Homo sapiens: one gene and its partner. The protein of the gene in region 1 purifies or fractionates together with the protein of each later gene. This does not show direct contact. Each region holds a gene or a part of one and is shown on either strand. Other genes may lie near its edges.

Region 1 (3,622 bases):
ACTTGAGTAATCTACTTTTGAGAATAATTTTTATGGAAATTGCTTCTTTCCCCTCAAGGACTCTCTGTTACACTCTTTTTTAAGGTGACTTTGAGTCTTAAATGCCATAATTGAAAACTGCTTCCAAAATCTAGGTTGGAAATAAATAAATGACTTATGCAGTTTATTTGCTTTTCAGGTTTGTTTTGGAACAGTACAATGCACTCTCCTGGCTAACCTGTGACCCTGCAACCCAGGACAGACGCTCATGTCTCCCAATTCATTTTGTGGTGCTGAATCAGTTATATAACTTTATTATGAATATGCTGTGATCTTCATTTGATGGAACTGTGCAAGAAAAGAACAAGGAAAAATGGATGTTTCGCTGCAGGATTAAGTTACAATTATCTTCTCAGTGAAGGTCATTTGTGATGGGGTCTAATTCTTATTACTTCAACAAATATTGTTTTGACTTGGGGGGAGGGGCTATAACCCTGCTATTTTTCATTGACTCTATTGAACTCTTTAGGATGATGACTGATCATACAAAACGTATTATAACATTTTCGTAGCAAAATTAACCTTTTTTTTTTCCAGTCACAGTATTTGTGAAAAGTAATGAGCCATAGTACCCAGTCATGTTAAATGAATATTAAAAGCATGGAGAGGAAACATGAGGAACAATGAATTTCAACATATGGCTTCAGAACATGAAGATGTTCTTGTATGGATTATAGTATCTAGTATTCAAAAATGCCTGCATCTCTTCTCTTATTTATTGTAAGTTTTTAAATGTATAAATTGTCTTATATTTCTTAACCTCTTTTATAAAAATTTTCCTAGAAGGTTTATACTGCCTTCTTGCTTTAAAGCAATTGGTCTAAAATATATGTAATCGTCTTAATTAAAAAGTTGCAGTAGGGTTGCTTTTAGAGTATTATTTTTTTGTAAGGGGGTGGGTGGGACAGTAAATTTGTATTGTCTCGATGTACAGTTTAACGGGGATAGAGGGGGAATAATGTCCATACCATTGTGTGTGGAGGATTTACAGCTAAGCTGTAGTTGCAGAGTACATGTACAGTAATGAAGTTCACTGTGTTTATAAATTGAAAAGGTACCAGGTCTTACAGCATTTTATATATCACATCTTTACAGAATAACATGATGGCAATATACAAGTGGTATTGTTAGGTGGTTTAACTTAGAATAAAATGAGAATTCTTCAGTTATATTTTGTACTATGGTTTAGGGCTATGACTAATATTTCAGGCCATTTCCGGTGAAAGAAACTTAGTTTTACAAGAAAAACCATTTGCTACTGAATGCTTAAACTAATTTTAGTGTTTAATGTTACATGCTTAAATTTTTTTCAGTTTTAACAGTGGCATATTTAGGCATGGAAATATTATTATGAAATTTATTTTCAGGATCTGCTATAAGGTTGAAATTTAGCCCAGCTCTAGGCATTTTACAAATTATTTTTCAAGCAGTCATTCTTGATTGTTTGACTTTTTTTTTTAAATTAAAGATTGGGAATGTATGTGAGAGTATGCATATGTATGGGTGTGTGTGTGTGCGCGCAATCAAACTGTGGTGTAAATAGATTCTCAGTGAATTCTGGTATTCAGACTCTATTCCACTAGTGAAAGAACCATTTTTTAAACTTCCCTTGCCTTTTTTATTTATTTAATTTTCTTGGTTTGGAGATGTCAGTCCCAAACACCAGAGTCTGTACTTTTCTATAACACAGCTCAGATTAAGGTAGGGCATATGCCAAGGAGGTTCTCACCTCCCTAAAGAAGGGACTTGAATTTTAGGGACTTTAATTCACCCCTCCTTCAATACAACTTTCCCCCTTCTTGTTTGCACATGCCAAGATAACTGCTTTTATGCAGGCTGTACCCCCTTGAAAAATCCTTTCTACAGTGCTGCTCACAAAAGAGCCCAAGTTCGCCTCCTACCTGCATTGCTGACTTGAATTCACAGTCGCCGAGTCTACCTAGCTTTCTTGGAAGCAGTCTAGCAAAATTTCTATTTGTACGTTCACTAATTATCTACAAGGACAAAATCAGTTGTATTTACAAAACTCTACTTCAGTGTTTGTTTTAGTTTTTTTTTTTACTGAAACTTGTTTTTGTGAATACTCTGTGCTTAGAATTAAATATCACTTTCTTATGAACAACATAACTTCTTCAGATTGTGTATATGAAAACATTAGCAAGTCTTGTTTTTTCTATGAAGCAAACACAATTGGTGACAAAGGTTGTCAATCATTTCTTCAAAATTATAATGCAGTTCTAATGGTCAGCATATTTTGATATTAAATTTAAAGATCACCTCTCTGCATTTGTTTTTAAATTATGCTAATACACCACACATTATGTTGGTATGTTTTGTTCTGTACTTTCTTTAAAAAAAAAAAAAAAACTTGTCTGAGATTTGAAGGAAAATGTGCTTATTTGGAATTTCCATAAAAAGAGTATCCTTTTTATACACTTAATAGTGACTTTACAAAATAAAAGTTATATTCTCAGTTGTTTAAAATCACTAACCTATGATAACCACACCTCAATTTGAAAGTAGATTTAAAATTATTCCCTGACAGGTTATTTAATATGGAGCCATAAGGAGGGAACCCAGTACACAATTATTTTTTATTTGGGAATCAGGGAATAGTTCCCAAATATACAGGATTTATTGATAAGATTTTTTTTCTTCCCTTCATATATCCATTCAAACTCAATGGAAAGTTATTAAATAACCATTAGAAAAGCTCAGTAGACTTATTTGAGAAATTAAGCCTTGTGCAGGATGATGGATTTGACTTACTAATGTACTGTCACAGACAAATATGGGTAGTTTTGTTTAAATAGGTAAGCAAAATATTATACTTTATAGCAGTGGATTACCAACACCTTGACTTCTTTGTTACAGTGCTAACATCTTTTTTTTTGTGCAGGTATCCATGATTATTAAGCAGGGTGGAAGTTCAGTATTTTGTCATTTAAAAAGATTAGTTATATAATGTCTGCTTCCAGCCAGTGAGAAACATCTAGCCATACCTTTCTTATGCAAGCCATTGAGTTATCAGGACTGTGAATTAACACTGTATGAATAAATTTCTGTACACCTTATTGTTTGGCCAGAAGGCCACCAAGTGTACTTATATGTAATCCTTAAATTTTAAAGTAGCTGTAATTTTTAAATATTTCTAAACTTTTCTTAAACCACTAAAATTAAGCTCTTACTACTTAGTCAACTATCCTCAGCTGTATTCGTACTCAATTGTCAGTATGGCACAGATTACTGTATTAAAATATTCTCCTTTCGTCTTCATATTTACCTTCTGAGGTAATTTTTTAACTTAATGTGTTACTACAAAGATTTGCAGATCTTTAATCAAGCACTATGTTAATACTGTAATATCAGAATACTATGTTGCATTATTTAAAATGTTCAAATTGAATAGATTAAAAAGTTTTTAAATGCTATTGCATCATATAATTTGCTATTCATCCACTATGGCATTGCATATCAATCAGTTAATACACTTAATGTTGCATGAGTGATATTTTGGTCTGGGTTTCCTCTTAAGATTTTAGTTTGTCTGAATTAAGGAAAAATGTTTTTAATATACATTCTT
Region 2 (3,622 bases), on another chromosome or scaffold:
GCACGTGCATCATTTGAGGTCAGGAGAATTTGAGACCAGCCTGGTGTCATGTGACCAGACATGGTGAAACCCTGTCTCTACTAAAAATACAAAAAAATTTGCCAGGTATGGTGGTGGGTGCCTGTAGTCCCAGCTACTCGGGAGGCTGAGACAGGAGAATTGCTTGAACCCAGGAGGCGGAGGTTGCAGCGAGCCAAGATCATGCCACTGAACTCCAGCCTGGGCAACAGAGTGACACTCTGTCTCAACAACAACAAAAAATTGATTATCTGAACATTTTTAATGGTACAGACAATTATTCTTTATATGTATTCACATACCTTAATTGGTTATTTAGATATTATTGTCTCTAGCATTGGGATGTGGACATTTTTCAGGAACATGTGTTTTTTTTCGTTTTTTATTTAAACAGTTATTTTTTTATAAAACTGCAATCTTTTTCAAAACTTCATTTTATGGTTAATATATTTGAAATTATGGACAACTTTAATTGATGCTTCACTATATGTTTTTAACTGAGAACACATTTCCTCTCTAGATACTGATGAACCTGTAAGTTCTGCTAAATGAAGAATCTTCTCATTTTTTAGATTAAAATATGTAAATATTTCAGGCCAATATCGTCATAGGTGCTGTCTTTCTACCTTCATTCAAAGCACTTTTGCTCAATAATTTCTTACAAGATAAAACTTTCAAGTTGTCTATATCTGTGATTGTTTCAACATTTCACCAAATCTAGATACTGCAAAATCATAGACTTTCACAATTTTTCTCCATTTTGGTAGAGAATAAAAATTTATCCAAATAAAATTAGAAGTCAAAATACATCAAAGTCAAGATTTTTCTGAAGCACAATTGTCAAAATAGATAATTAAACCATATCTGCTTTCATCTTTTGATTTGTTCAACTCCTTCTTCGCTTTTGTAGGGAGAAATTTGAGCTTCTTCCTTTGCAAGCCTTATTTTACATAATTGTAACTTGCTAAAAGCTTCAAAAGCTGAATTTTCATGCTACATTCATTCAGTAATCGATTAAAAATTTCCAACTGGTCTTGAACATAATGCAATCTAAATTTGGGTTGCTTTACAAAGTGGTTTTTCAAAGGCTCAGGCATTCCCAAAATCCAATTGATGACATGCAACACAGACAGGAATATACATATAGTCATTCTGAAATGTTTCCTTGCATGGTAGTGTTCAATATCAGCTTCTGTCAGAAAAGTTTTGTAGATCAGTTACTTATAAAATCTGTGTGTGTGTGTGTGTGTGTGTATATATATATTTATAATTTATACATTTTGACAATTTTAGTTTCTGTTTTGACTGACAGAATACCGCAGCTTGTTTGAATGCAGTCACAAATTTTGTGCACATTACAACCAATTCCAAGTACATTTCTGCTTCATAGCTTGTTAACTTGGTAAGAACATTTTTAACACAATGCTGTGCTCTATTAACATTTGTATTCATATTCTTACAACAAAAACAACAGTTTACCTTCAATGTTGAGCTTTTCAACTAAATTTACAGTGGCATTAACAATGTCAGATGTTTCACTTTTTGACTAGGAAATAAATTTTCACATATTTTATTTTGATTGTTTGAATTAGATAAAAAACAAAATTGAAACATTTCAGAATTAATACATTTTTGAATTGAGACCTCTAAGGAAATTATTATAAAAAACATTATTTGAAGGTTTGCAAAGGAAAATCACTCATTAATTATTACCAGTTTACTTACAAGTACAAGAAAACTTGGAATTGAAAATGAGCAAAATTAATTTATGAGTTATTTGATACTAATGGGAAGGTGTGCTTCACAATGACATGTACATAGGCCTCCTGCAGCTGCCGTGTTGAAGTCATTTTAAGGCATATTCTTCTTAAATTATTAACTTTGGAAATAGATGCCAAAGCTGCTTCACCATATTTGTACCTTCTGGTTTTCAAAGGGATAGTGATCTTTCTACTTGCCTGCATGGTACATGGTAAATATTGAAAAATATTTTCTGCACGTTGCATATTCATTATCAGCTTTCTTGAGACAATTAAACATGTGGGTTTTGTTTTGAGCTAACTGCTGAAAGGGTTTATTGTAAAATTCAAAAGGCATTACCATATAATAAAACAAATAGAGCTTCACATATACAAATAATAACAAAACTGCTTTAATAAAACAATTAGGTTACACTATACTCTATGGCAAAATTACTTAGCCTCTATTTCCTAAACATAATTTGTATGACATTAAGCCACAATTTCTCCCATTTTCTACTGACTCTGAGGAGGTTCCACGCATCTCACAGGCCACCCACCACACGACCACATGAGGGCATGAGTGGTGGTTCACAAAGTGGCCAGCAGGGGGAAAAGCCTCAGAAATTCTTCTGCTACCACCTAAGATCAGAAGAGGTACTTGTGCTTGAGCTCTTAGCTTTAACAGGCAGCACCCTGCATATAATTCTTGAAAGGTTGCTGCTAGCTAGGTTTCATCTGAACAGAATCAAGAAAAAAGACAAGTTATCATTAGCCATCTTTTGCATTTAACCATAATTAAGTCAGAATTTGGCTGGGGACAGTGGCTCGTGCTTGTAATCCCAGCACTTTGGGAAGCTGAGGCAGGCAAATCACCTGAGGTCAGGAGTACAAGACCAGCCTAGTCAACATGGTGAAATCCTGTCTCTACTAAAAATACAAAAATTAGCTGCGCATGGTGGTGCATGCCTGTAGTCCCAGATACTCAGGAGGCTGAGGCAGGAGAATCACTTGAACCTGGGAGGCAGAGGTGGCAGTGAGCCAAGATTGCACCACTGCACTCCAGCCTGCACGACAGAAAGAGACTCCATCTCAAAAAAAAAAAAAAGAGCACTGTTCACTGAATATGTGTTTCATACGCTGCTAGATGAGACCATGGAAGAAGCTGGAAGGAGGTCTGTTAAGCCATAGTGGCTTACTTAATGCAAATACTGATAAGAAAACTTTAAATAAAATTGAAGATCTGGGGTAAAAAGTAAAGTTAATAGGATGTGAGAAAAACAAGCATAAACCCAGGACTCTTTCAGGTAAACCAGGATATATGGTCACCCCAGAAAGATCAACATGAAACTATGGCTTTTACTCCAAATGAGATGGGAGTCATTTTGGGGTTTTGAGTAGAAGAATGACAGGGTCTGACTTTAGTTTTTAAAGGTGACCCTGGCTGCTTGAGAACAGACTGCAGTGGGGCAAAGGGCAGGAGACCACTTAGGAGCCTACAGCTATAATCTAACACTGAGAACAAAGACAATAGTTCCCTAGTAGAGAGATAAATTCGTATCGTTAAAATTGTGTATGTGTCTGGAGAAAAGAACAGTTAGGGCGTAAACTACCCCTGAGCTCAAATTTCAGGTCTGTGCTTCTGGCTATTTCATACAGGGAACAATGATGAATCAAAATATCATAGTACAAAATTACCAGCTATGAAGAGCATCTACTTAATTCATCTTACACTAATTCCATTCTCATCAAGCAACCTTTTAATTATAATGTACGTCCATATAGACTTATCCATAGGAAGAGAATGCATATATGAGTAAATATAGCTGTTTTACTTGATAGCTTTAACTGTAAATTTGATTTCT

The links.
Region 2: the proteins of MED13 (region 1) and LPXN purify together in Homo sapiens (co-immunoprecipitation; one large-scale study listed by IntAct). This does not show direct contact.

The regions. Positions count from the first base shown.
Region 1 is NC_000017.11:61,943,157-61,946,778, reverse strand, and holds part of MED13 (mediator of RNA polymerase II transcription subunit 13), read left to right. Parts: intron 1-178; coding exon 179-311; 3' UTR 312-3,622. UniProt on the Homo sapiens protein: Component of the Mediator complex, a coactivator involved in the regulated transcription of nearly all RNA polymerase II-dependent genes.
Region 2 is NC_000011.10:58,565,752-58,569,373, forward strand, and holds part of LPXN (leupaxin), read right to left. Parts: intron 1-3,622. UniProt on the Homo sapiens protein: Transcriptional coactivator for androgen receptor (AR) and serum response factor (SRF). Contributes to the regulation of cell adhesion, spreading and cell migration and acts as a negative regulator in integrin-mediated cell adhesion events.